Linked DNA regions of Homo sapiens. The protein of the gene in region 5 interacts with the protein of the main gene of each other region in a pairwise test. Each region holds a gene or a part of one and is shown on either strand. Other genes may lie near its edges. The genes, in order: TM4SF4, NSG1, SMAGP, FLNA, OPRM1, CLDN8 and TMEM236.

Region 1 (3,926 bases), on a different chromosome or scaffold from region 5:
ACAGGTACATATTAATGATCTCCACAATTATAAACAAGAAGTGTGCTTATTTTAGAATGCAATTGTTTATTTATTTATTTATTTTATTTTTTTGAGATGGACTCTCGCTCTGTCACCCAGGCTGGAGTGTAGTGGTGCCATCTTGGCTCACTGCAACCTCTGCCTCTCGGGCTCAAGCGATTCTCCTGCCTCAGCCTCTTGAGTAACTGGGATTACAGGCATGGGCCACCACACCCCGCTAATTTTTTTTTTTTTTTTTTGGAGGCGGAGTCTCGTTCTGTTGCCCAGGCTGGAGTGCAGTAGCGTGATCTCAGCTCACTGCCACCTCCGCCTCCCGGGTTCAAGCAATTCTTCTGCCTTGGCCTCCCGAGTAACTGGGAAAATAGGCATGCACCACTGTGCCTGGCTAATTTTTATATATTTTTAATAGAGATGGGGTTTCACCATATTGGCCAGGCTGGTCTGGAACTCCTGACCTCGTGATCCACCAGCCTCGGCCCCGCAAAGTGCTGGGATTACAGTCGTGAGCCACCACGCTAGGCCTAGAATACCCTTTAAACTATAACAAGGCCTAGAATACCTTGTTAACTATAATATCCAGAACTAGGAACTATGGGTTCAACCTTTTTATAATAATTAATAAATATGTGTTAAGAAAAAATTTTTAACACAATTCTGTCATCTAACAATGATTGAGTTGTTTCTGACTGATGTCTTCTCTAGGCAGTACTTGGTTGTTCAAAATAAAGTGTTTGAGGAAATACATTATTACCTGATAGATGAAATAAGGACTCAACTCTAAGGTAATTCCTTCATTTCTGAGGAATAATGTGAGAGTGAATGATTTTCCTTATATTCCAGCATATGTAGTAGATTTCCTTCTCAGAAGTTTACACAAATTCATGTTTCATAAGTACTATATTTTTAGAAGTGCAGCAGGAATGAAACTTAGTTATGTAATCCAGCAATTCTCAAACTTATTCAACCTTACATCCTTTGGAAAAGAGATTGCCTGTTCTAACACGAGAAATTTACCAAAATGTTCACTTACTTCTGACCTAGGTTAAAGTCATGAATGTTCTGGATGCTGAGAGTGGATTTAGATACCCTAAACATAAACAATAAGGGGAAAAATCTAAACAATTAGTAATATGAAACCTTAGTCATTGAAAACATGCAACAAGTCATTATCCAGTGCCTTTGATAAGCTAGGAAGAAGGAAAACTGTAAAACTATGCTAAGTGTGGAAAAATGCCCTATCTTCAAATAACTTATTGTCTGTGACTTCAAGGAACTTGTGCTCTATTTGGAGAAGACAGCCATAAAAAGCTAAGCATTAGTTGGGCATGGTGGTGCATGCCTGTAGTCCTAGCTCCTTAGGAGACTGAGGTGGGAGGATCACTTGAGCCCAGGAAGTTGAGGCTGCAGTGAACCACGATTGCACCACTGCACTCAGCCTGGGTGACAGGGCAAGACCCTGTCTAAAAACAAAAACAAAAACAAAAACAAAAAAACCTATGCATTATTGTATTAGAGGCATTGTGCTGTGATAGAAATTTGTGCAATCTAGAGTACAGGGGTTGGAAGAGATGAAGAATGAAGGGTCAGTTCTACAAGGAGAGTCAGACAAAGCACATGAATAGAGCTTGGTATTAAAACGTTGCATCAATCAGATGAGTTGGCAAAAGAGTTAAATTTTCTATTAAAAAGACTTTTTTTAAAAGTTGCATCCAAAATACATTGATATATGATATGAAAATGAATCCCAGCTAAAGTAGAACTCCATTATTACATAGATTCCAATCACCCAGGCACGATCAGGTCCTCTTCACCTTCAAACCTTACCCCATCCCAGATATGTACTATGATAATATTGTTAATAACATGAAAGGGGAAAGGGAAAATAGCCGACATTTAGCTTAAGCTGCCACGTCTAATTTTCACAACAGATATTTAAGGTGGGCTCTATCATGCCCATTTTAAGATGATAAAACTAAGGCTCTGAGGACACATTCATTATGCAAAGTCATTACACAGAGAAGACTAGCAAAGCTGAGATATGAGCCTGGGTCTGGGTCTGCTGACTTTAAACCCTGTGCTTCGTCATCAAAGCAACAGAGGTGATCGTTTTCTGCCTCTTCTTCCAAAATTTTAAATGTTTTCATTCTACTTTCTAGTTACTGTCTAGAATGGATATTGCAAAAGTTCTTAACATCCTGGGCCTACATTTTTTCATCCGTAAGAGGGAGTTAACCTAGCTGGGTTCCAGGATTGCTTCTGCCTTTTGCAGTCAATAATTCTATTTTGATTTTATAATTGAAAACAAAATATGGTAGTCTAATCTGTTTTTCATTAATCTCCATCATAGAAAAATATTTAAAAGAATGGAATTTTTTGATTGTTTAACTTAAAGAAGAGAAAATGCTCCGAGGGTGGAAGGGGTGAGAGATGTCAAGGCAATCTTCAGATATTTTAAAGACTGATGCCAAATGGAAGACAGGTTAGACTTGATCTTTTTGGCCTCGAGGAACATAATGAGGGCCAATGAGGAGGGGTTCTAAACTTTTACTCTTTCTCATAAGTAGAACCTGCCTGTCACATGAGACATCACAGTGACTGGCCTTAGCAGGATAATTTGACCAGAAAACTTAAGATTACTGCCAGGCCAGGTGCGGTGACTCACATCTGTAATCCCAGCACTTTGGGAGGCCAAGGCAGGCGAATCAACTGAGGTCAATAGTTCAAGACCAGCCTAGCCAACATGGTGAAACCCTGTCTCTACTAAAAATACAAAAAAGTAGCCAGGCATGGTGGCGCACGCCTGTAACCCCAGCTACTCAGGAGGCTGAGGCAGGAGAATCCCCTGAACCTGGGAAGTGAAGGTTGCAGTGAGCTGAGATCACACCATTGCACTCCAGACTGAGCGACAAGGGTGAAACTCCGTCTCAAAAAAAAAGATTACGCCAATCCTAAGGTTCTTTGATTCTATAATAGATTGGCTTTATATATCAGCCCTGGGGAGGAGAGTTTATCTTTAACAAGGTTAAAAGGCCATGGCTCAAAGGTAACAGAACCAACACCTCTGTCATCAATGAAAAGGTGAAAAAGAAATGGAAATGGGAGTGAAGAAGGGAAAAGAAGACACCAAAATTCATTCTAGAAGACCCCACAGGCCCCATCTACTATAAAGACTAGCTCCTACTCCATAACTTCTTGTAGTCACCATGTTCAACAGCAGGTGGATTAGGTTTGTTGAGTGTATCCTCTGGACCACCTGGAGAATGTGACTGTCTCTCTTCCTCTCTTTCAGATGTTCACCTCCACGATATTTGCTGTGGTTGGATTCTTGGGAGCTGGATACTCGTTTATCATCTCAGCCATTTCAATCAACAAGGGTCCTAAATGCCTCATGGCCAATAGTACATGGGGCTACCCCTTCCACGACGGGTAAGGCCACACCCTGCAATGCCCACCTGTCACCACAAGGGGCATGGGCAGATAAATTGCCCAAGGGGAGACTGCACACAATGCCATGTCTTCATCCTTATGCAAGCCTCAGGCTCGGTGCTCCTTTGAGGCAGAGATGGAGTTGTGGAATACAGCAAAGTTGCATAGGCTCTCACCTCTAATTGCTCCTTTGACAGACCCCAGGAGAAATAACTAAAAGAGGACGGATGCCTCCTTTGGCCTGAGGGAAGGAAGAGATTTGTTGTGTCATCACTTGCACCCAAATATTTATTAGCAGCAACACAAGGCAACTAATAATATTAATAAACAGAGTAATAGTTTTCATTACAAATCTCATAATAGAAAACAAGAATAATTAACCACTAACTGGGCCCAAGGGCTTTCATTAATACCCCAAATTGCCTATAATTAAACAATCATTTAAGTGCAAATGTACAGAAAATGACATTGAAATCATT
Region 2 (3,926 bases), on a different chromosome or scaffold from region 5:
AAACCTAGTGTCCTCTCGGGCCACGTCTGCCTTTTTCACCCTCCTCACGATATGCCTCAGCTTGGGGCCACTGGGAGTGGCTGTCCAGAAAAAGCCTGTCCCCTCCCCACTGCCTGGGGCTCTGAGGTCCCTGCCCTCAAGGTGTCGAGTCCAGTGTGCACATAGTAGGAGGTACTTAGTACATGCTGACTGTACCAAGTGAACTGAAGGGCGTGACCTTGGGCTCCACGAAGAGCCTCTGTACACCCTCTAACCACTGGTAAAATGGGGATATAACAGCATCCACCTCAAAGGGCTTCTGGATGCATTCTGTGAGCAACAGGTGTAAAAGTCCCACACAAGCTGCCTAGCGTTGGTGTGTGACAAACACACGCACAAATATGGAGGGAAGAGGTCAAGGGGACTTCATGAGCTCATGCCTCTCCTTTCTCCAGCTTCGGCCAAGGGCAGCTGGATACAGACCAGCAGCTCCCTGGCCTTCCTAGGTGCCTTCTCCGGAAAGGACACCCCCTCATTAGATGCTAGTGGAAAATGCCAAAGTCCCACAGGACATCACTCCAGAACAACTTATCAGGGGACTCTCAATTCCCAAGGCTGGCTGTGGATGGGAATCACCTGGAGCGCCTTTTAAACAAAAGGTGCCAGGCCCCTTCCATTGTGGCCGCCAGTCTCATCTGCAGCCGGACACAGGACTGGGGCTTCATCTCCTGGGTCATCTCCCACCCAGGCCAGGTATCCAGCGGGACTTGGGCTTGCAGGATAGGGAAGGCAGTTTTAGCCACCCCCTCCTCCCTGTGGGGAACCTGCTCCAGGCTCAGAGAGGATGAGCCAGGAAGGAAGCTCCAGGGCAGCTGGTGAAGCCACTGGCCTCAGTTATTTGTAAGTAGCCAGTTTCGGTGGGGACTTCCGGCCCCCAGGAAGCTGTCCTCTGCTGTCCTCTCTCCGGCTCAGGGCCAGCTCCTGGGCCTGCCCGTGCTCCCTCTCCATGACATCGGCCTCCCTCAGTAACTAGCTCTGCACCAGGCCCTTTCCTTTTACCCCTCTGCCTCCCAGATTAAATCAGTTCTCCAGTCTGCAGTCTCCCCTCCATCCCCAGCGCCCCAGTCTTCTCTTCCCTCAGCCACTGCAGCAGTCTCCTTGGTCATCTCACTGCCCCGTCTCTCCCTTCCAATCTCCAGCCTCCCCAGGTGACCCAAGAGGTCACCCTATCACTTCCCCCTCCTCCAGGGGCCTGTGCCTGGCACTCAGGATGCACCCGCTCTGGCCGTAAGCTGGTTCATCCTCTGCCGCCTCCCTGTGCCTGTGGCTAGCCCCCCACCAGCACACCCCCACCAGCACGTCCCCACTGCCCGCTGCTCCCTCTGTGCTCCTCTACCATCACAAACCCCTTCCCACTGGGTCAGGGCCAGCACTGCCCTCGTTCCCTGAAGCCCGCACCCTCCGCTTCTGCTTGTTGTAAAGCCCTGGTGTCCTCTCAGCCTCCAAAACAGACTCAAACTCTCCCAGCCCCAGCCTAGGGCGTGGACGGGGCTTGCTGAATAAAACATGAGTGAAAGGGTGGGGGCTTTCCTTGGCTGGGCACACTCCCCCAAGACCCGCAAGCTCCCTGGCTCACCTCCTGGAGACCCGCTCCTCCAATGTGGACCATCCTTCTAGAAACTACCGCCCACATGCCCATGCCCAACCCCTGGGCCCTCTTTCCTGTCTGTCTATAGCCTTCACATTCAGTGTACGACTGACTTCCTCACCGTTCATTTGAGAATGTAAGAGCCTCGTGAAGGCAGGGGGCTGTACCTGACTGGCTCTCGGCTGTGTTCCAGCGCCTAGAACAATAGCAAGAGCTGCTGGCACGGGGTGGGTGCCATGTACATGCCTGCCCAAGGGAGGAAGAGCTGAATGTCGGGAGCCTGAAGGACAGCATGATGTGCAAGGAGAAAAAGGGACTTGGGCTGGACAACGTGAATTCCAGCCTTTCCTGCTAATCGCGTAAGGACTCTCTGCGTCCTCATATCAGCAAAAAACAAAACCTAAATGAAACCCAAACCCAAGCTACCCAGTGACAGCTGCCAAGCCAGGCTTCCCTGTGCACGTGCTCAGTGCTAGAAACAGTTGGCTTCTCCTGCTTTATTTTAATCTCAGCAGTGCCAAGCCCTGGAGATGAGCATCTCACACTGACTCTGGGAAGTTCAGAGCCAGCTACTGAGTGTATGGATAACGGGAGCCCACAGCTACCGAGTGTATGGATTCCGTGAGCAACAGGTGTAAAAGCCCCACACAAGCTGCCTAGCGTTGGTGTGTGACAAACACACGCACAAATATGGAGGGAGGAGGTCAAGGGGACTTCATGAGCTCACGCCTCTCCTTTCTCCAGCTTTGGCCAAGGGCAGCTGGATACAGACCAGCAGCTCCCTGGCCTTCCTAGGTGCCTTCTCCGGAAAGGACACCCCCTCATTAGATGCTAGTGGAAAATGCCAAAGTCCCACAGGACATCACTCCAGAACAACTTATCAGGGGACTCTCAATTCCCAAGGCTGGCTGTGGATGGGAATCACCTGGAGCGCCTTTTAAACAAAAGGTGCCAGGCCCCTTCCATTGTGGCCGCCAGTCTCATCTGCAGCCGGACACAGGACTGGGGCTTCATCTCCTGGGTCATCTCCCACCCAGGCCAGGTATCCAGCGGGACTTGGGCTTGCAGGATAGGGAAGGCAGTTTTAGCCACCCCCTCCTCCCTGTGGGGAACCAGCAAGTGCGTTTTACAGCCACACGCGGCATAACAGCATTTGGGTCAACGATGGACCACATGCCATGGTGGCCCCATAAGACTGTCACGGAGCTGAAACCTCCTGTCGCCTGGTGACCTCGCAGCCACCGTGTAGACGGAACACAACACACTCCTCACTTTGCGGAGGTGCTGGTATACACACACCCCCTGCACTGTCAGCTGTATAAACGTCTTGCACATACAATTACATACAGAACATAATACTTGACAGTGACAATAAACGCGTATGTTACTTGTTTATGTTACCGTACTATACTTTTTAATCAGTATTTTAGAGTGCATGCCTAGTTATTAAAAAAAAAAAGTTAACTCTAAAAGAGCTTCAGGGAGCTCCTCCAAGAGAGATTCTGGAAGAAGGCAATGTTTTGTTTTGTTTTGTTTTGTTTTGTTTTGTTTTGTTTTGTTTTGTTTTTAGACGGAGTCTCCCTCTGTTGCCCAGGCTGGAGTGCAGTGGCATGATCTCAGCTCACTGCAACCTCCGCCTTCTGGGTTCAAGCGATTCTCCTGCCTCAGCCTCCTGAGTAGCTGGGATTACAGGCACCCGCCACCATGCCTGGCTAATTTTTGTATTTTTAGTAGAGACGGTGTTTCACCATGTTGGCCAGACTGGTCTTGAACTCCTGACCTCAGGTGATCCACCCACCTAGGCCTCCCAAAGTGCTGGGATTACAGGCGTGAGCCACTGCACCTGGCCTGGCATTGTTATCCTAAGAGATGACAGCCCTGTGCCTGTCACTGCTCCTGAAGACCTTCCAGTGGGACAGGGTGTGGAGGCAGAAGGCGGTGATACTGTGGATCCTGACCCTGTGCAGGCCTAGCTAATGTGTGTGTCTGTGTCCTTAGCTTTAACAAAAATGTGTTGGAAGTAAAAAAAGAATTAAAAAATTTTTTAATAGAAAAAGCACATGTAGAAAAATAATATACAGTTGTGCAAGATGTTTGAGCTTTAAGCTAAGTGTTATTACAAAAGAGTCAAAAACTTACATTTTAAAAGTTTATTGGCTGAGTGTGGTGGCTCACGCCTGTAATCTCAGCACTTTGGGAGGCCGAGGTGGGTGGATCACCTGAGGTCAGGAGTTCGAGACCGGCCTAGCCAACATGGTGAAACCCTGTCTCTACTAAAAATACAAAAATTAGCCGGGTG
Region 3 (3,926 bases), on a different chromosome or scaffold from region 5:
TGTATTTTTAGTAGAGACGGGGTTTTACCACGTTGGCCAGGCTGGAATGTTTGTCCTTTTGTGCCTGGCTTATTTCACTTAGTGTCATGTCCTCAAGGTTCATCCATGTTGTAGTATATGTCTGAATTCCTTCCTTTTTTGTTTTTTGTTTTTTTTTAGAATTTCCTTCCTCTTTAAGGGTATGTATATACCACATTTTGTTTATCCATTTATCTACTGTTGGACATTTGGGTTATTTCACCTTTTATTTAGCTATTGCATAATGCTCCTATGAACATGATATACAAGTATCAGTTGAAGTCCATTCATTTCTTTTGGGTATATACCTAGAAGTGGGATTGCGGGATCATACCCACCCAGCAATGAGATTGCTGGGTAATTCTGTTTAATCCTGGCAGGAACTTTAAAGGTAAGGGTTTTTGCCTGTGTTGTTCACTGATAGAAGCCCAGAGCCTGGCACAGAGTACACACTCAGTAAATTCTTGTTGAACTAACTGTTTAATTTCCCTGTCTAGGAACCTGGAATCTCAGTCTAAGAAGGCTGTGCAGCTTATCTGACCCAGCTTGCTCTCAGTAGTCCCATTCTGACTTCTAATGCTTGCTGTTTCGAGTTCAAAGCCCCCCAAACAGGCCGTAATAGTGTGTTCTAGAACTTTGCTGGGGAGTCACATCAAGCTCACCATTGCTTTATGGACTCCACCTTCCTTCCATGGCCCCTTCAGGTTCCCGACCCCTTTCTCTTTCTCAGAAGCTCCTATGTCACCAACAGAAATCCCATTTACAAGTTCTTGCAGTGCCTTTGGCTGTCATATCTGGTCCCTTTTAGATTAGTCTGGTGCTTGCTGGGTTTCTTTGCTTCTCTTGAGCTCACTTCCCCCATGTCCCCAAAGGCTCCACTGCTCCTTAGTGCAAAAAAATGATTCTCTTTGATAGGAAACAGAGGTGAAAAGGCCTGAGGGAATTCTGCTTTCTCTGTTACCTCCAACCTGACCCCTCAGGCCCAAAGAAGCCTAGCTTTTTCTTTGTTCTTGTTGCAAATATAATGCTTTTTAAATTGTCCTTCGGGGGGCGATGTGGCTCACGCCTGTAATCCCAACACTTTGGGAGGCTGAGGAGGGCGGATCACCTGAGGTCAGGAGTCTGAGACCAGCCTGGCCAACATGGCAAAACTGTCTCTACTAAAAAATACAAAAATTAGCCGGGTGTGGTGGCACATGCCTGTAATTCCAGCTACTTGGGAGGCTGAGGCAGGAGAATTGCTTGAACCCAGGGGGCGGAGGTTGCAGTGAGCCGAGATGAAGCCACTGCACTCCAGCCTGGGTGACACAGTGAGACTTGGCCTCAAAAATAATAATAATAGGCCGGGCACAGTGGCTCATACCTGTAATCCCAGCACTTTGGGAGGCCGAGGCGGGCAGATCACGAGGTCAGGAGATCAAGACCATCCTGGCTAATATGGTGAAACCCCGTCTCTACTAAAAAATACAAAAAATTAGCCGGGCGTGGTGACATGCGCCTGTAGTCCCAGCTACTCGGGAGGCTGAGGCAGGAGAATCGCTAGAACCTGGGAGACAGAGGTTGCAGTGAGCCAACATCGCGCCACTGCACTCCAGCCTGGGTGACAGAGCGAGACTCTGTCTGGAAAAAAAAAAAAAAATCTGATGTAGAGTCTGCCTTCTTGTCATCGTTTAAATATTGAGGTAAATTTCTTTGCACCTTTCTTCATCTGCACTTTCTGCTTCACCAGATGGCTTCATATAAGTGGAAACTGACCAATAGCTGCATCGCAGCAAGGCATTCTGTAGAATTTTTTTCTTAAGGTCTTCCTGTATGGCTAAAATATTCTCTAGTTGTGAGAAAGCTTGCTTCTGATCATGTTAAACATTAAAGCTAAAGAGGGTGGGGAGTCCTCTGAACCTCTTTTGGTTCTAGGGGCTGCTCAATTTAAAAAAATTAAAGAATAGATAACTGAAAATAAACTAAAAATAAAGAAGTCACATATAAACCAACATGACTTCTGCATTACACTGACATCGTTCCCTTAAGTTACCTATCACCAGTGAGCCAGTTCATGTTAAAGAAGCACTTTGTAGCACAACTGTCTGTATTTAATTGTGATCATCTGGTTTCCTCCCACCTTTATTCTTTTTTTTTTTTTTTCTGAAACAGGGTCTCACTCTGTCACCCAGACTAGAGTACAGTGGCACAATCACAGCTCACTGCAGCCTGGACCTCCTGGGCTCCAGTGATCCTCTCACCTCAAGTTTACCGAGTAGCTGGGACTACAGGTGTGTGCCACCATGTCTGGCTAACTTTTTTTTTTTTTTTTTTTTTGTAGAGATGGGAGTCTGGCTATGTTGCCCAGGCTGGTCTCCAACTCCTGGGCTCAAGCGATCCACCTGCCTTGGCCTCCCAAGGTGCTGGAATTACAGGCGTGAGCCACTGCACCCAGCCTCCTCCATATATTATTTTTAAAAAACAAATAGAGATGGTGTCTTGCTATATTGTCCAGATTAGTCTCAAACTCCTGGCCTCAAGCAATCCTCCTGCCTCCGCCTCCCAAAGTGTTGGGATTACAGGCGTGAGCTACCACACTAAACCTAATGTACAAAGTAAGTTACTGTTGATGATTGAACACAAATTACTCATCTTCAAGCTTCTGATATACATTAATCTTCTCAATGCTTTGTACATCCTAAATTCTCAAAATGTTTAAAGAAAGCAAAACTAGGAACAACTGTATAGAACTCTAGATCCATGGTAGGAAGATGGATTGCAGCCCTGGGCGATTTGGGGAGGAAAGTGCATGGTGAAATGTGTGAAGTCATGACCAGGTAGATAAACTTCAGGGCTTCCCTTTGATGGGAGTCACAGTGTTGTATAACCTAATCTCAGAAGTTACATGCCATCATTTTTGCCATCATCTGTTAAAAGCAAGTCACCAGGTTCAACCCATATACCAGAGGAGAGGCATGCTCAAAGATGTCAATACCAGGAGGCAGAAATCATTGTGAGCCATCTTAGAAGCTGTACACCACACTCCCATTTCACAAATCAAGAAACTGAGGTACTGCCAGGTGTGGTGGCACACGCTTATAATCCCAGCATTTTGGGAGGCCAAGGCAGGAAGATTGCTTGAGGTCAGGAGGTTGAGGCCGCAGTGAGCCAAGATTGCACCATTGCACTCCAGCCTGAGCAACATAGTGAGATCCTTGTCTCAACAACAACAACAAAAAAAAAACAAAAAAAAAACACAACAACAACAACAACCAGGTTCAGAGAGGTTTAGTAACTTCCTCAAGGTCACCTAGTAATATGCTTAGGCAGGATTCAAACCCAGAGCAACTCTCCCTTTAATTAATTTATTTTTTTGAGACAGGGTCTCATTACTCTGTTGCCCAACAATTCAGTAATGCAGTGCTGGCTCATTGCAGGCTTAACCCCCTGGGCTCAAGCAATCTTCCCACTTCAGCCTCATGAGTATCTGGGACTACAGGCGCATATTACCACACCTGGCTAATTTTTACATTTTTTTTTTTTTTTTTTTTGTAGACAGAGTCTTACTGTGTTGCCCAGGCTGGTCTCAAACTCCTGGCCTCAAGCGATCTTCCCACCTTGGTCTCCCAAAGTGCTGGGATTACAGGCATGAGCCACCATGCCTGGCCCTTTTAATCACTAAGCATATTAACAAAGTCACCTTAAATAATATTTAAGTAGTAGCTACTATATGATGTTTACATGTTCTCTCATTTAATCTTCATAATAGAACTGCAATGTTGGTTAATATAGTTCCTGTGGGTAACAGATGAGAATGGATGAATGAATCCATATGTATAGGCGAGGCACAGTGGCTCACACCTGTAATCCCAGCACTTTGGGAGGCCGAGGCAGGTGGATCACTCGAGGCCAGGAGTTCGAGACCAGCC
Region 4 (3,926 bases), on a different chromosome or scaffold from region 5:
ATGGCCAGAGACAGGCCCCCTGGAGAGAGCCGTGGGTGAGCATGGGAACTATGCTGGGGACACTCCAGTTGGCCTGCACTGAGGAGCTCCGATGGCCAGGGCAGCAGGGCAGGGAGCCCCATTCAGGAGTATCTCCTGAGTCCAGCCCTTACCCCGGTGAGGGCATCCCGGGCACAGAGCAGGTCAAGACCAGAGCTATTGCTCACCCTCTCCTGCATCCTTGGTGTTGACGGTGAAGGTGGCAGGCTTGTTCACTACTCCATGGGTGAGGCCAGGCCCATAGGCAGTGACATGGCCACAGTTGACGTAATCCACATAGAACTGCAAGGGGCTTCCTGAGGCAGGAAGAAGGGCCTTGTGGAATGGCAGCCTCGTGTGTCCCCCAGCCCCATCTCTCTGTGAGGTGGTGGCGGTGGAGTGGGCAGAGGCAGGGCAGGCCCACCTGGGATGTGCATGTTGTCATAGCGGATGTCCATCTCGTGCAGGCCAGCCTCGCTGGGTGCATACCGCACGGTCACGGTGCCGTCTTTGTTGTCAGTGATGGTGGGCTGCGCCACCTTGCCTGAGGGCATCCGAACCTCCCCTGTGGGGCAGTGGGGCTGAGGTCAGGGCAGCTCATTGGCACAGTCTGGCCTCCTTGGCTCCCGAGCTCCTTCCCAAGTCCCCACTCACCTGTGATCTCGCCCTTCTTGATGGTGAAGGGGATGACAAGGTCAAAGGGCCTCAGGCTGGTCACATCCAGCCCATTGACACCCACCAGGGGCCTCTCCGGGGCCTGCAGTGGAGACACAGGGCATGGGTGAGGGACAGTGGGAGGATCTGGGGTCCCTCCTCACACATGGTAAACTAGGGGCTCACAGAACACCCAGCTGGCTAGCCCCAGTGTCCCTAGCTGGCCAGGCCGTACCCAAGTCTGCTGGCCGCCCTGGGCGTAGGTGTACTGTGGGGCCAGCTGCTGAGACCGTAGAGGGGGCTGCACCGAGGGCTGGTCCCCAGCCAGAGCCTGCAGGGCAAAGCAGAGAGCTGCTGGAGAGTCTGTTGTCACAGAGGGGCCCCAGGGGAACAGGCCGGGACCTGCCAGACACCCCTGCTGACCTACCCCCCACCCCTCCTCACCGTCACTTGGAAGGGGCTGTTGGGCACGTGCTCGCCACCAAAGCGCACACAGATGACGTATTTGCCCGGCTGGGGGGCCGTGTAGAAGATGTCGAAAGTGCCGTCCTCATTCTCCACCACGTCCACATCCACCTCTGAGCCATCAGGCGTGCACACGGTGCACGTCACTTTGCCTTTGCCTGCCGCCTTAGTGTCCACAGTGATCACCGTCTCCTCCCCAATCTGAATGGTGGGGCCGATGCCAGCACCTGGTGGGGCAGGGTGGGTCCCCAAAGGGGGGCCAGCGTGTGAGCTCGGGTTCAGGTTGTTCCCGTCCGCCTGCCGCCCACACAGGCCTCTCATTGCCACCACCAAGCACAGCCAGGCCGCCAGGCCTCCTGCCCCGCCCTGCCCCTCCAAGCTGGGATGGCGAGTGGTTTCTCAGAAGGCAGGAAGGTTTCTCCTGACCACCTCAAGTGCCCATGTGGGAGAGGCCCGACAGTAGCACCCAGGTGCCTGGGAGGAAAAGGAAGGGCCCACTCCAGCCTAAGTGTTGACAGCCACTCCCTTGCCTACTCAGCCTCGTCCAGCACCATGGCCCACACTGCTGAACGCCAGCATCTGGCTGGGCACACGGCTGCCTGCGCCCTTCTGGCCTGGCCCCGGCCCCCATTGCTGTGTGTGGACGCGGTGAGGCGGAGTCCTGCTGCAGCGTGGGGGGATGTGACACTTGCCTCCCCACCCCCCAGGCCTGATGGTGAAACCGGAGTTTCCTGACAACTGAGAAGGCTCGCGGTGAAAAGCAGCCCGGTGCAGACAGGAGTGGGAGCGGGGAAGCGGGAGGCAGCGGGGTTAGCACCCGAGTAGCGCAGCGCAGCAGGCTTGGCAGAGCGGGGATAGCACCCAGGGAGACAGGGAACAGGAGGCCCAAGCTACAGCCACCACTGCTGGGTTGCGAGGGCAGAGCAGCTGAGCAGGCTCCAGGGCCCCAGAGTGCCCGAGGAAAGGGGAGAGACAGTGACGTTATGATCTGGGTCTCCGCCGTGGAGGCTTGGGGGGCTGTGGGCTGTGAGGCCTGGCAGTGAGAGTGCCCCCTGCAGCCTGGCCTCCTGCCAGGGAAGCAGCCAGGAGCACGAAACCTACTTGAAGGCCAAGCTCGAGGGGCCCTGCCACCAAGTCCCACTATCGGCCGAGGGCTCCTGCTGCACTAGGCTCCATGCTGGCCTGCCGCGGCCAGGCAGCTCTCCCAGGCTCCAGACCTGGCTGCCGGCTGCCCACGCTGCCCTGGGAGGCTTCACTCATGTGCACCCCATGCCATCTAGTTAGTGGCTTGGGCCCCAACCTCACAGGTACCCGACTGCCCCCACTTTCCCTGCCCGGCTCCCAGCCAACCGCAGGTCTCAGCCACTCCATCCTCAAAGTATGCCTCCTAATTTGGCTCTCACTGAAGCCCCGTGGCCGTCAAGCTTGCCAGAGAGCAACTTCAGCGCCCCCTTCCCCACCCCGGGCTCCCTGTCTCCATTCTGCAAACAGTAGCCAGGGAAACTGAGGTTACTGAGTCTTGCTCCCACCCTCAAAGCCCCCAAGGCCCTGCAATCAGTACTCCCCAGCCTCCCCCGCCCTGCGCACACACGCCTGTCACACACACATCGGATCCTACGGCCTGCTCTATAAAGCCATCTCGCTCCTGCCGCAAAACTCTAGCCACCCTCTCACCCTTTCCTTAGCCACCTCGCCCAAGTGCCAGGCCTGTAGCCTCTCATCAGCATCCCTGGGTGTCCCTGGCTGGGGCAGGTGACCCTCCATGCCTGTTGGGGAATGTCTGAATAACGTCACTGCTGGGGGATAGGGGAAGGGGGAAGGAGGGAGACGGGCCACAGAATGCACTTTGGGGCTCTGAGGCTGGGCCGGGCCCCGCCATGCTGGCCGCCCAAGCAGTCGACACTGGCGCTACTGCACTACCAGCCAGCCCCACCCGCTCATGCACCTCCCCCGGCCCGGGACGCAGAGGCCCCTGGAAGGTGGGGATGGGGGTCTGTGGATCTGGCCAGGGCTGGGGCTCCCATTGAGTTGGGGAGACCCCTTGTTCCCTCAGCCCACGCAGGAGCCCTTGTGCCTCCCTGGGTGCCAAGATCCCGAGACCCCAAAGTCCCCAGTGGGGTGCCTCTCAGGATGCACCTCACCCCAAAGCTCTCAGCTGCAACCCGAGTTCTCAGATGGGGAAATAAAGGCCCAGAGAGGGGAAGAGCTGGAGCGGTCATGCTCAGCTCCGGAAGCCTCCCTGGGCCCTCGCCCTCCAGCCCACGGCCTCATCTTCTGCACCCCACCCAACTCTGTCCCTGCCTAGAGCTGCAGCTGGAACTGTCCTGGGAATCGGCCCCAAGAGGAAAGGAAGCTGCCCCTCTGGGCAGGAGGGGCATTGGGAGTGGCCCCAGCAAGCAGCTTACCTAGCCCGTGACCTCCGATTGACACTGAGGTGAGAGGGCAGAGAGCAAGGAGAAAGGTCAGGTGAGTCACTCAAGGGGGCGGCCCCCACTCCCACACGCCGCCCCAAGCAGCGAGCCCTTGCACACAGGCACAACCCAAGCCCCGTGCCGAGCGCCGCAGCGGCCAACAGCGGGCGGGCTCACCTGTGACAGTGCACTTGCTGGCGTCCCCGGTGGGCACGGCACGCACGCGGTACGGGGAGAAGGGGATCTCGTCACCACCGTACTTGATGAGGATGGTGTAGCGACCTGTCACGTCTGGCACGTAGGCCACTGTATACGTGCCGTCATGGTTGTCTTGGATGTGTGTCTTCTTCGGCTTGCCTTCGGGATCCTGTGTGGCAG
Region 5 (3,735 bases):
GTTTTTACTGAATATGAAACAATATAAAACAATGTGAGAGGGTCTTTCTCTCCTCTCAATGTCAACATCATATATGATTGGAGACTTCCACATAATTGAGTTTTAGTGCCCACTGTTACAGAAAATCATAATGGAAAAACTAAAATGTCAATAATAATTTCAGATGTGTATTTTAGTTCTCATAAGAACATCTACATTCATTTGAAAAATAGTTCTATATCTATTCTTGAAACATATTTCTTTAGTTCAAGGTCTGATGAGCTCCCAGACTGTTGGGGATTGCTCTACAGCTGCTCAAGCTTTTGAAGACTCCTGTGATTTTTTTAAATGGCTGGTTTGGTTGAAGTTTCTCTTATCAGTCAGGCACTTTGCATTTTAAGCGTACTTTACCACCGACACCCTCCCCCCCCAGCACACACACACACACACACACACACACACACACAACATAGTGAAATGGACCCGTGGGAATTATATGATAGTTGTAATCAAAATAAAATGCAATCAATACTAAAATACAATTTACCAAAGGCTTACCTCCTTATTTGAAACTCCAGCATCAATAATTTACTTGCACTCTTGTTATTTACATTTGTACTCTGGAAGTAAACTTAAAATGAAAATTAGAATTTGCTTTCAATTATACTATCTCTATCTAAATCTTAATTTGAAATTTAAATTATTTTGTCTCTACCCAAACCATCGATTTCATGGAAATGTTTAAATTTTCTTTTTTTTTTTTTTTTTTGATGGAGTCTCACTCTGTCGCCCAGGCTGGAGTGCAGTGGCTCAATCTTGGCTCACTGCAACCTCTGCCTCCCGGGTTCACACCATTCTCCTGCTTCAGCCTCCTGAGTAGCTGGGACTACAGGTGCCCGCCACAACACCTGGCTAATTTTTTGTATTTTTAGTAGAGATGGGGTTTCACCACGTTAGCCAGGATGGTTTCGATCTCCTGACCTCGTGATCTGCCTGCCTCGGCCTCCCAAAGTGTTGGGATTACAGGTGTGAGCCACTGCGCCTGGCCAGAAATGTTTAAAATTTCATAAATCTTGAATCCATAAAATTCAATGCTACCATTTATAATTTAATACTCCTACCATAAAAATTTCTGTGTTAGGCATAGCTATATGAATATTTGCCTATAAATCCCCATCAATTTAATAGGAATTAAGTTAGAAATACTAGTATATATATTCCCTTTATATACTAATTGTATATCCATATAAAAGCATTAGTACCATTATATGAAAGTATATATGCCATTCCATAAAAATATATCTACCAATATAAATAGAATATATAAAGGGAATATATATATACCAATATAAATGGGAATTTATATTGGCACATACATTTCCATTATTTTAATGGGAATTAAAGAAAAAATGCCTGTTTTCACTAAGTCATCCTTCCCCTGGCAATACATTTCCTGAACTTTTACATACTTAAATAGCCAGTTATGAAAATGTAAAACAATGAGTGATCTTGTTGTTTTCATTTTATTATGTTATATGAAAAAAAGAAACCTTGTAAGTGCAGATTTATTTTAAAAAATTGAAAAACTACTCTGTCAAACATAGCAAATAGGAAAGTTAAAAAAAAGTAAGTCTAAAGATTAGGTGCTCTGTCACTTGTCATTACATTTTTTTATAACATTAATGACACATTTTTTGCTATCCAAATATAATTTCCACTAGAAAAGAAAAGATGTCCTCCATGTTTTAAATTGCATTTGAAATTCAGGTAACTAATAACCCTTGGTTTTAAAAGATACATATAATGTTTCCGTAGGAAAAAAATCAAAATATTGTAAAGAATCTGAGTAAATGAGAGCCTCTCATGGTTGATTAAGTTCAGACATTTTAAACAGACTCCTGCCCACAAACTATTTTTCCTCTCCAGGAATAAGAATGGCAACTGAATTGTTCCTTCTTTATTCTATAGCTTTAAGTCAAACCTAACATAAGCAATCAACCCTTCCACCCATTGTCCTCTTTCTAGCTGCTTATATTCCTGAGTCTGAAAGAAGGGCAGAATTAATTCGTTTCCTTGACAGTGTTGGGGGTGAAATAAAAGATAGACCCCTGCTGCTCTGCACGTAGATTCAGTTTGTATGCCAGGGTGACATTTTAATTTACAGTAGTCCAGACACCTAAACAGGACATAGAAATGTCAACTGGTCATATTAAAATAAAAAAGTATAGAATAGTTTCTGTTTTACGGATTTTGTATCCAAGTAAATGAAAACACAATCACCTTTCAAAACATGGTATGAAATCCACAGTTGTAACAGTGAGCACAACATGCTTTCTGTGTGTGTTTTTAAGCTCTTTCCCCACATCTGCTTTTCAAAAATATTTGCCTGGAAACCTGTATTTCGCCTATAGAGACAAATACATATATTGTTTGTTGTGATAATGCACAAAAAGGAATGTTAAAAAAAAACACACAACATTGTTTTCCTTTTGATGGTCTGGGAGTTTTTCTATAAGTTTTTGGTTTTTTTTTTTTTTTCTCTTCATTAGTGTGTTAGTTCCATCATCATGTCTGTTTACTATTGAAAAATAAATATCTTCATTTAAAGTAGAGACAAAGCTACTATTTCACATTTCCAGGTAGGACAGGATGATCAGATGCAGCTTTCAAAAGAACTACCTGCTAAATCATAATGGTCTCATGTGCAGATCAAAATGTCAACTAGTATATCAAACAGTGAGCAATTCACTAAATTATTTTTACATTACTCCTATTTGACTGTTTCAGATAGTTGTATATAAAAAATATAAATTTTTGCATTGTATTGTTCTTGATGTACCAGCATACATAAACATATTAGGCTGTATTGTAAGTTTCCTGCATGTAATATGTAATGTGTAATTATATGTGATAAATAAAACCTAAAACTGATACAAATCTAGATTTTCCCTTGTCTTTCTCATTCTGACATTACTGACCTGTTTTAAAAGAATATTCCCCAAGTAAATGTTGCGACGTAGGTAAATAGCCTAAGAATTAGAGTAACAGACAACTTTGATACTAAATAAATACTTCAAAATAAAGAAGTGAACTTTCTCTCTTCATGAATTATTTCTATTTTTAGAACCAAAATGTCTCTAAACCTTGACAACCATAACTTCCTAAGCTAGAATTCTAACCAAACCATACAGAGAAGAAAAATATCCACTGTAAAGTCTATAGTTGAAAATATAGGCAGCTAAATCCACTGATAGTCTACTTTTTTTAAAAATGTGTTCTTGATGTTTTGAGCAGGAAAATTATTTGCAAGAAACAAAGAGTTTGATAAGGTGAAATTCAGAGCATGCTCTGGGTTGTTAGGTACAATTTTTTGAAGTGGAAACGTCTCAACATGAAAACACTTTATGGTAAGAAAAAAACGGCTGGGCGTGGTGGCTCACGCCTGTAATCCCAGCACTTTGGGAGCCTGAGGTGGGTGGATCACGAAGTCAGGAGATCGAGACCATCCTGGCTAACACGGTGAAACCCCATCTCTACTAAAAATTCAAAAAATTAGCCGGGCATGGTGGCAGGCACCTGTAGCCCCAGCTACTCGGGAGGCTGAGGCAGGAGAATGGTGTGAACCCGGGAGGCGGAGCTTGCAGTGAGCCGAAATTGTGCCACTGCACTCCAGCCTGGGCGACAGAGTGAGACTCCATCTCAAAAAAAAAAAAAAAGAAAGAAAAAAACTATCTCAAAATAACATTGCATAACTTT
Region 6 (4,367 bases), on a different chromosome or scaffold from region 5:
AGACAACTAAAAGTTTTCCCAACTCATGGTAGTTAAGTGTGTCATTTTAACATATAAAAATTCGTGTTTAAACTAGACATTGCTGAAAAAATAATTCACTTTCCTTGAGAGAAAGAGTGTTGAGCTATGAGTCCAGGCAGCCTTTTTATAAATCTCCTGATTCTATTGAGTAATCAATGAATTGTTCTGAGATAGCCTCATCTTTGAATTGAACTAATAACATTATCAGTCTCATAAAAGATTTAATAACAATTCATATAAGCAGTAGAGGTCCTAGCATGTAATACATGCCCCCAGAACATTAGACAATATTATTTATTATTTCTCAGAAGTAGAAATATATATTTAGCTACAGAAAATTTTTCAAACCTGGCTGTTATATACATAATATTTATAACATATAGATTTGCTTGAATTTATAGTACTATCTTAAATTATAAATATATTATCTGCATTGAATATTGGTATAGGGATCCAATGATTATAAGGTATATTGTTGTTAAATAACATAAATAACATAGAGTACTTTATATTTTCAAAAATTAATGCACTGTTTGTCTTTACAAGGCAAATCTTGACATTCTTTCTCAATTTGGAGAATAAAAAATTATCAGGCTTTTCAACATTCTTCTACAAGTTAATAAAACAGAAACAAAAGGAGACTTGTGAAAGAATGTCAAATAATTAGAAAAATGTACAATTTATTAATATAAATGTATAAAGCAAATAGAACACATTCATTTAAGCTAGACAGACGTCGACACAAACTTTCAAATTGGATTGTCAGTTTCATCAAATTTGGAATAAACAGAAAAATACAGTATTTACAGATTTTAGTAAAACTAAACAGAAATGGTACAAGAAGGAAATTTATTTTTCACAGAACAAAAATGACAATTTTGACTCAGGTACCCACATAGGAGCAGGTGAAGTTCTCAAAGGACAACTTTTTTTGTTGTTGTTTTTTTGGTAAGCAAATGAAAACCAAGACATATTTTTCTGCTCTTTTATTTATATTGATGAAACCTCAAAGTCTGTACTCAAATACTTATTAAAATATATCCATACATATATGATTTCTTGTCAAAATGCATCATTCTTCTTCAAATACAAAAACAAAAATATTTTCACTTTCCTAAAACCATCACTTTTTCTTAGATCACACTTTTATCTTTCTTCTGAGTATAGCCCTGGAAAAGCAGTTTGAATGCAAAGCCCCTTGACAAAATATCTGCTTTTTAAAAATGTTAATTTAATACACAAGAAAAAAAAAGCCTCTGGGAGAAGAGGATAAAGAAGTTAGGATTTCTAACTCCTAGGCTAAAAAACAGCATATCAGAAAGCCATTCAATTTCCTTTACAATGCTGATTAAAGCCTTCATTTTAATCTTCATTATAAATGGAGGACATTAATCCCTAAGCTGTTTTTAAACAATTAATAGTAACCTTCTTCAACCCTATCCATGATTTCCCTGAAAAGCAATAGTTGAGTTCTATTTATTCAGTGTAATGGACTGGCATTTCATTTTAAATAAAACCATATAAGCATGTCTCTATGTGAGATATAAATGTTACACTCATCTATGTACATAATGCTATGTCGTGGAGAAATTACAGTAGTAAAATAATGCAGTCTTTAGCAATGTCATTTTGAAGTAAATGATAAAAAGAGTAGATGCTTGAACCACCTTAGAAAACAAATTACTATACTTTCTAGAACAATCAAAGCATTGGGTTTAATATCTCATTCTGCTGAAATAGCTTATAGAATCATAAATAGCTGATGCACAGTTCCTGTAATTAAGATTAGGCAGTTAAGAACAGTAAATCAAAGTTTCTTTGGGGTCCATTTTGAGAAAGTAATATAGATTTTTGTCATTTGCATGGCTTTATAGTAAAGTTAAAAAAACATACACAACTACACATACTGACTTCTGGAGTAGACGCTCGGTGACTTCTTTCCGGTGTGATAACTTTTTTGGGTTGTGCGATGGGAAGGTATCGAGTATCTGTAGCTACTGCTCTTTTCGTTGCAACAAAAAACGCAGCAGAACAGAGCTCCTCCAACAATCAGCACCAGTGCCGTGGTCCATCCTAAGTAGAGAGCTTCTCCAAGCTCACGTTTTTGGGCAACATTCACTATTGAGTTATAGAAATCTCTGATGATGGCATTGGCAACCCAGCTCACAGGGATGAGCACCACCATGCCCGTGATGATGAAGATGATTCCAGCCGTCAGCAGAATGTGAGCCTTCACCTTCTCATTGTCCCCCGTGCACCTGGTGCATTTCATGCCAAGGATGGCCATCATGAAAGCCAAGAAGGACATCACGGAAGCAGCACACATCAGTCCTCTGGCTGCCTGTAGGTCCGGAGAAAGAGCCAGCAGGGAATCATAGATTTTGCACTGCATCCTGATGTTAGCCTGCCTCACGCAATTCATCCACAGTCCTTCCCAGAAGTTTTCAAAAACCACGATGTTGTTTTCAATGAAGGCCGACACTCTCCACTGAGGCATGACAGTGACAGCCACTGTGCCCACCATTCCAACACCACCAAGAAACAGCCCAGCGATTTCTAAGGCATGGGTTGCCATTATCCTCTGGGATGAGTTTTAGCCAGCTGGACTCCGGAACTGCTACTTCTGCTTTGAAGCAGGGTTCTCTGTGCCACAGAAGAGAACAGTTTTTCCTGTAGTAATGAACTCGGAACCCAGTGGTTTTTCAAATAAGAGCTGCTTTGCTACTTCTGGCCAGATAGTATCCAGTGCTGGCTGGCTGAGATGGCCCTGCTATTGGCTGCAACAGGTAAACTTACAAATCAGGTGTGGCAACTTTCTCAGCCAATAAAAGGTGGATGGTAATCCAGGTGTGTCTAAACCAACACTTGGGTACTTGGAACAGCTAGACCTGCACATAAACATTCTTTATACTTCTCGGTCTTCCAAGAAGACAGCAGTATGTTTACCTGTAGGCATAGTTATAAGTGGTTGCATAAGCATCAAGAAATGAGCCGATCCCTTGTAATGTGAAAGGTGCACCTTGTACAGGCAATTCTGAAACTCTTAATAAGAGCTGCTGGGACCAAGGGATAAAATAAATTATCTGCCGAAGAATTCTGCAACGCTGTTGAAATGCCAAAGTGAAACGAGAGTAGGGGATTGAAAGATTGCTTTTACCTGGGAAGCCACATTCTTTGGGACACATGTGATCCAAGTGATTGATTTAATTTTTCTACAACTTCAAAGCAAGCTCTACTGTGGTGAAATCAGGGAACAGATCATGCCAGAGGACAAAATAAGCTAAAGTAATTAAATACACAAGGCTGTCCTTCTCCTTGGCACTGAAAACATATTGGAGTTCTTTAAGCCAGAAAAAATACTCATTGACACTTTTCTGATAATCTTCACTTATAAAAACATTTTTTGCCAAAATAAAAATCACCAGATGATTATCTTATGTATCCAGCACTATAGCATTAAAATAAGCTTATGAGCTTATTTTGTGGTGTTATTCTTGCTGCTTTGAATTCCTGGGCTGAAGGAACTAGAATTCTGAAGATGACACAAGACCCTTGGGCCTATACAAATGGCTGATATTTCAAAATAAGATATTTACAAGACAAGGGAACTATATTTACCAAACTGTATTATATTAGGTATTAACCAAATATGTTTTCCTACCTTTTAATATTATGTCTGCAGTAGGACATAGAAACCCCTAAACGCAAGACAATTTGAACTTTCTTCTCAAAATAATGATGCTCTAACAGTAGTGCTATACTAAGCATAAATGTTTATCTGAGAAAATTCGACTAGCAATTTTCTTCTGGAGATCACCTTAAGCTCTCTGTCTGATCTTTCCAAAGTTTAAGCTGCCACTTCATTTTCTTTTCTTCTTAACATCATAAAAAATGATTTTCTCTTTACAGTTTTACTTTCTCTCTGTTTCATTGGACTACCTTAAATCCAAATATGGGAGAAAATCGTTTCTGCTCACTGATTAAACTTTGAGAGTTTCATGGTTCAAAAAATCTGAGTCATTTGTGGATATTATTAAAACAAAAACTATATGGTAGAAAGGGCAAAAGGAGGATCAAGTAGACTGTCTTCTAAAAAAGAGGCAGGACAGACGCACAGTAGTATGAGTTGTTATAATTTTGTTAAACAGACGTTATAAACCTTATAAAAAGTTAAAACTTAATATTTACAGAAATATTCTCATTTGTTGACCTGTGAGGTGCCAAACTTCAGGGTGTCCCTTAGGCTGATGCAGAAAATATGCAGCATTTGGCCGGGGCGGTGGCTCACGCCTGTAATCCCAGCACTTTGGGAGGCCGAGACGGGCAGATCAAGAGGTCAAGAGATC
Region 7 (4,564 bases), on a different chromosome or scaffold from region 5:
GCACTTTGGGAGGCCGAGGCAGGCAGATCACCTGAGGTCAGGAATTCAAGACCAGCATGGCCAACATGAAGAAACCCTGTCTCTATTAAAAATACAAAAAAAAAAAAAAACATTAGCCGGGAGTGGTGGCAGGACCCTGTAATCCCAGCAACTCAGGAGGCTGAGGCAGGATAATTGCTTGAACCCAGGAGGCGGAAGTTGCAGTGAGCTGAGATCGTGCCACTGCACTCCAGCCTGGACAATAAGAGTGAAACTCTGTCTCAAATAAATAAATAAATAAATAAATAAATAAAACATCAGTATGAAAGAAAAATTAGCTTATATTAACTTATTAAAGAAAAGAGAGAAGTCCAAGATGAGTAAGAATCAGATCTGAAGATCTAAAAGGAAAAATACATTAATATCAGAGACTATTTGTTCTCAATACCCTTATGTGGATCAGTATACCCATTAGCTAAACTGCTAGTTAAATTAACATTAAATCCTGATTTATTTAAAATATCTCTGTATTGTTATTGAAGTACTTTCCTCCCCTACAAGGGTAACAGAATTTACCAACACAGTAAATTATTTATTTTTAAAGTCTAAGTAGGCCAGCTTTGGCAGCTCACGCCTGTAATCTCAGCACTTTGGGAGGCCAAGACGGGTGGATTGTTTGAGCCCAGGAGTTTGGAACCAGCCTGAGCAATGTGGCAAAACCTCATCTTTATAAAAAACACAAAAAAAGTAGCCGGGTGTGGTGGTGTGCACCTGTAGTCCCAGCTACTCAGGAGGTCGAGGTAGGAGGATCACCTGAGCCCCCTGGGGAGGTTGAGGCTGCTGTGAGCAATGATCACGCCACTGCACTCCAACCTGGGCAACAGAGCCACACCCAGTCTCAAAATAAAAAATAAGTAAATAAAAAGTCTAAAGGAACCAGTTGTTTTAAAAGTCGTAGTTAATGGTCAAAGTATGACGTAAGCCTGCAAAATGCAATGTAAATAATTAAAAATAGACATTACTTTCAGTTTTACGCAAAATTAAAATTCTACATTACCATCTTCTGATTATGAGTTGTGTAAGCTCACTCCGATAAGTTTATGTAATTTAGTGTCCAGGAGAATTAAGTCCAACATTTACTACTTAGAATAGCATGAACTGGCACAAACTCCAGTCTTACTAACCCATCTCATGTGTTATTATCACTCAGTATAAATGACTGTAGAAAAATTAAGGAAGATACCATAATATCCATACATTCACAGAAGCAGTAATTGTAGCCTCCCATTAATGTCACATTCTATCCTTACGCTCTGCTCACATCCTTACCCACAGTATGTTAGAACATATCTTTCAGGAATACTTATACACTGTTAGTGGGAGTCTAAATTAGTTTAACCATTGTGGAAGACAGTGTGGTGATTCCTCAAAGACCTAAAGACAGAAATACCATTCGACTCAGCAATTTCAATACTGGGTATATACCCAAAGGAATATAAATCATTCTATTATACAGACACATGCACCCGTATGTTCGTTGCAGTACTATTCACAATGGCAAAGACAGGAAACCAACCTAAATGCCCATCAGTGATAGAATGGATAAAGAAAATGTGGCATATATACTTTATCGAATGCTATGCAATCATGAAAAAGAACAAGATCATGTCCTTTGCAGGGACATGGATGGAGCTGGAGGCCATTACTTTTAGCAAACTAACGCAGGAACAGAAAACCAAATCCCACATGTTCTCATTTATAAGTGGGAGCTAAATGATGAGAACACATGCACACACAGAGGGGAACAACACACACCGGGGCCTTCCAGAGGGTGAACGGTGGGAGGGAGAGGATCAGGAAAAACAACTAATAGGTACTAGGCTTAATACCTGGGTGATGAAATAATCTGTACGACAAATCCCCATGACACAAGTTAACCTATGTAACAAACCTGCACTTAAAAGTTAAAAGTCAAACAACAGACAAACAAACAAATATATCTTTGAAAGCATCACGGGGATTCCCTGCTAAGGAATTCTTTTACAGGCTGGGCGTGTTGGCTCACTCCTGTAATCCTAGCACTTTGGGAGGCCAAGATGGGTGGATCATTTGAGGTCAGGAGCTCGGGACCAGCCTGGCTAACATGAAAACCCCGTCTCTACTAAAAGTACAAAACTTAGCTGGGCATGGTGGTGCATGCCGGTGAAATAATCTGTACAACAAACCCCTAATGACACAAGTTAACTTATGTAACAAACCTGCGCTTTTACCCCTGAACTTTAAAGTTAAAACAAACAACAAACAAAAAAACAAACAAACAAACGTATCTTTGACAGCATCATGGGGATTCCCTACTAAAGAATTCTTCTACAGGCCGGGCATTGTGGCTTCTGCCTGTAATCCTAGTACTTTGGGAGGCTGAGGCAGGCAGATCACTTGAGGTCAGGAGTTCAAGACTAGCCTGGCCAACATGGCAAAAACCCGTCTCTACTAAAAATGCAAAAATAAGCCAGGTGTGGTGGTGTGCGACTGTAATCCCAGCTACTCAGGAGGCTGAGGCAGGAGAATCACTTGAACCCAGGAGGCGGACGTTGCAGTGAGCCAAGACTGCCCTACTGCACTCCAGCCTGGGTGACAGAGCGAGACTCCAAATCAAAAAGAAAAAAAAGAAAATTCTTTTACTTACCATCCTTTAATTTTTCTGTAAATATAACGTTTCTTGTGCAGGATAACTTTTACAGGAACCCAGATCAGTAGAGTCACTAACGCAACATAGGCAATAGAACAGGAGATGATCAGCCAGTAGTGTGTGTTGTCAGATCTAGCCCTTGTTCCTTGGTAGGCGGTGGCAAACTGTTCTGTGATCACGAGTGTGGGGATGGAGAAAGCGGCAAACTCTAGGAGCTCAAAAACCACGAACTTAATGAGCCTTCCAGAAGCCATCCTGAGGAAAAGCAAGCTGCCAAGAACCTGGGACTCCCTCTTTGACTGTGGGCAGCATATGGACCCACAGACACTGAACTGGGATCAAGTTCCTTGTCCTCGAATCGCTAACCAGTGACTTTTTATTCTTTTATTGACCCTCATATGGTTCAATGATCTCCTAACTTAACAACCGTGGTCTCTTAAAGGAACAGGACCATTGTGGAAGTGATCACTCAACATATTTGCACATCCATTATTAGAAGTCAAATGAACTTTAGAGCATGCCCGGGAGCATGGGTAAAAGCAGGGTTTTAAAAAGGTGTTTATTGCTAACGTTAGCACAAAACCATTTGTGTGATAGTCAATTCTTGTTAAGTAAAACTGCTGGAATAATATAATTTTAGAGTTAAAGGGGAATAGATAGAATCCAACCCTCTATTTTTACATAAAAGCAAATTCAGGCAAAGGGAGATACTCAAACCTAAGTCTTCATCTTGGAAAACCATCCCTCCCTTTCAAGTGCTTGAAAAGGGAGTTTGTATTCACTTTATCAACTCTCTAACCAGGATTCTCCCTAATACTTAAGATATTTATTCATTATTGTGCATTAGTTGCCATATAACACAAATTAATGTTATTTTTGTTTTGCTGCACAGGAAACTGAAATGGTGACATTAGAAGCCTGTTATCAAGATTTACACATTAACAGCTATCTGTGACTAGCTCAAATGCATATCAAATGTTTAAAGAATGACAATTGTCTCCATGAATATCCTTCCTTTGAAAAACATACTTGAGACCGGGCATGGTGGCTCACACCTGTAATCCCAGCACTTTGGGAGGCTGAAGCGGGCAGATCACCTGAGGTCAGGAGTTCGAGACCAGCCTGGCCAACATGGTGAAACCTCGTCTCTACTAAAAAATACAAAAATTAAGGCCAGGCACGGTGGCCCACACCCGTAATCCCAGCACTTTGGGAGGCTGAAGCAGGCAGATCACCTGAGGTCAGGAGTTCAAGATCAGCCTGACCAACATGGTGAAACCCCATCTGCACAAAAAACGAAAAAAATACAAAATTAGACGGGTGTGGTGGTGCATGCCTGTAATCCCAGCTACTTGGGAGGCTGAGGCACGAGAATCGCTTGAATCTGGGAGGTGCGGAGGTTGCAGTGAACCGAGATTGCACCATTACAATCTAGCCTGGGCAACAAGAGCGAAACTCCGTCTCAAAAAAAAAAAAAAAAAGCAAAAATTAGAGGGGCGTGGTGGCACATGCCTGTAATCCAGCTACTTGGGAGGCTAAGGCAGAAGAATCACTTCAACCAAGGAGGCTGAGGTTGCAGTGAGCTGAGATCATGCCACTGCACTCCAGCCTAGGCAACAGAGCAAGACACCTTCTCAAAAAAAAAAAAAAAAAAAAGAAAAGAAAAACATACTAGAGCACTTACAATGAGCATTTTAGTATGTGTTAGGGTGTGAAGATGAATGAATGACAGCAGTTCCTGTTCTGAAAGTGCTTGAGGTCCAATGGAGGAGATAAAATGAGGAACCACAACAAAAAACCAAGGCCAGAAGAGTGTAAATGAAGTGCTACAGGGACACAGGTGAACTTCACCTTGCTTCACCTTGGGGTTGTGGGAAGAGGATGGGCACATAAGCA

What was found.
Region 1: the proteins of OPRM1 (region 5) and TM4SF4 interact in binary tests that used the Homo sapiens proteins (3 or more experiments, as listed by UniProt).
Region 2: the proteins of OPRM1 (region 5) and NSG1 interact in binary tests that used the Homo sapiens proteins (3 or more experiments, as listed by UniProt).
Region 3: the proteins of OPRM1 (region 5) and SMAGP interact in binary tests that used the Homo sapiens proteins (3 or more experiments, as listed by UniProt).
Region 4: the proteins of OPRM1 (region 5) and FLNA interact in binary tests that used the Homo sapiens proteins (3 or more experiments, as listed by UniProt).
Region 6: the proteins of OPRM1 (region 5) and CLDN8 interact in binary tests that used the Homo sapiens proteins (3 or more experiments, as listed by UniProt).
Region 7: the proteins of OPRM1 (region 5) and TMEM236 interact in binary tests that used the Homo sapiens proteins (3 or more experiments, as listed by UniProt).

What each region holds. Positions count from the first base shown.
Region 1 is NC_000003.12:149,484,309-149,488,234, forward strand, and holds part of TM4SF4 (transmembrane 4 L6 family member 4), read left to right. Parts: intron 1-3,310; coding exon 3,311-3,447; intron 3,448-3,926. UniProt on the Homo sapiens protein: Regulates the adhesive and proliferative status of intestinal epithelial cells. Can mediate density-dependent cell proliferation.
Region 2 is NC_000004.12:4,411,012-4,414,937, reverse strand, and holds part of NSG1 (neuronal vesicle trafficking-associated protein 1), read right to left. Parts: intron 1-3,926.
Region 3 is NC_000012.12:51,249,827-51,253,752, reverse strand, and holds part of SMAGP (small cell adhesion glycoprotein), read left to right. Parts: intron 1-3,926. UniProt on the Homo sapiens protein: May play a role in epithelial cell-cell contacts. May play a role in tumor invasiveness and metastasis formation.
Region 4 is NC_000023.11:154,353,709-154,357,634, forward strand, and holds part of FLNA (filamin-A), read right to left. Parts: intron 3,916-3,926; coding exon 3,726-3,915; intron 3,567-3,725; coding exon 3,543-3,566; intron 1,365-3,542; coding exon 1,117-1,364; intron 1,004-1,116; coding exon 908-1,003; intron 776-907; coding exon 673-775; intron 584-672; coding exon 443-583; intron 336-442; coding exon 207-335; intron 20-206; coding exon 1-19. UniProt on the Homo sapiens protein: Promotes orthogonal branching of actin filaments and links actin filaments to membrane glycoproteins. Anchors various transmembrane proteins to the actin cytoskeleton and serves as a scaffold for a wide range of cytoplasmic signaling proteins.
Region 5 is NC_000006.12:154,129,441-154,133,175, forward strand, and holds the end of OPRM1 (mu-type opioid receptor), read left to right. Parts: 3' UTR 1-2,916; downstream 2,917-3,735. UniProt on the Homo sapiens protein: Receptor for endogenous opioids such as beta-endorphin and endomorphin. Receptor for natural and synthetic opioids including morphine, heroin, DAMGO, fentanyl, etorphine, buprenorphin and methadone.
Region 6 is NC_000021.9:30,213,330-30,217,696, forward strand, and holds CLDN8 (claudin-8), read right to left. Parts: upstream 2,769-4,367; 5' UTR 2,597-2,768; coding exon 1,919-2,596; 3' UTR 677-1,918; downstream 1-676.
Region 7 is NC_000010.11:17,750,654-17,755,217, reverse strand, and holds the start of TMEM236 (transmembrane protein 236), read right to left. Parts: upstream 3,018-4,564; 5' UTR 2,923-3,017; coding exon 2,666-2,922; intron 1-2,665.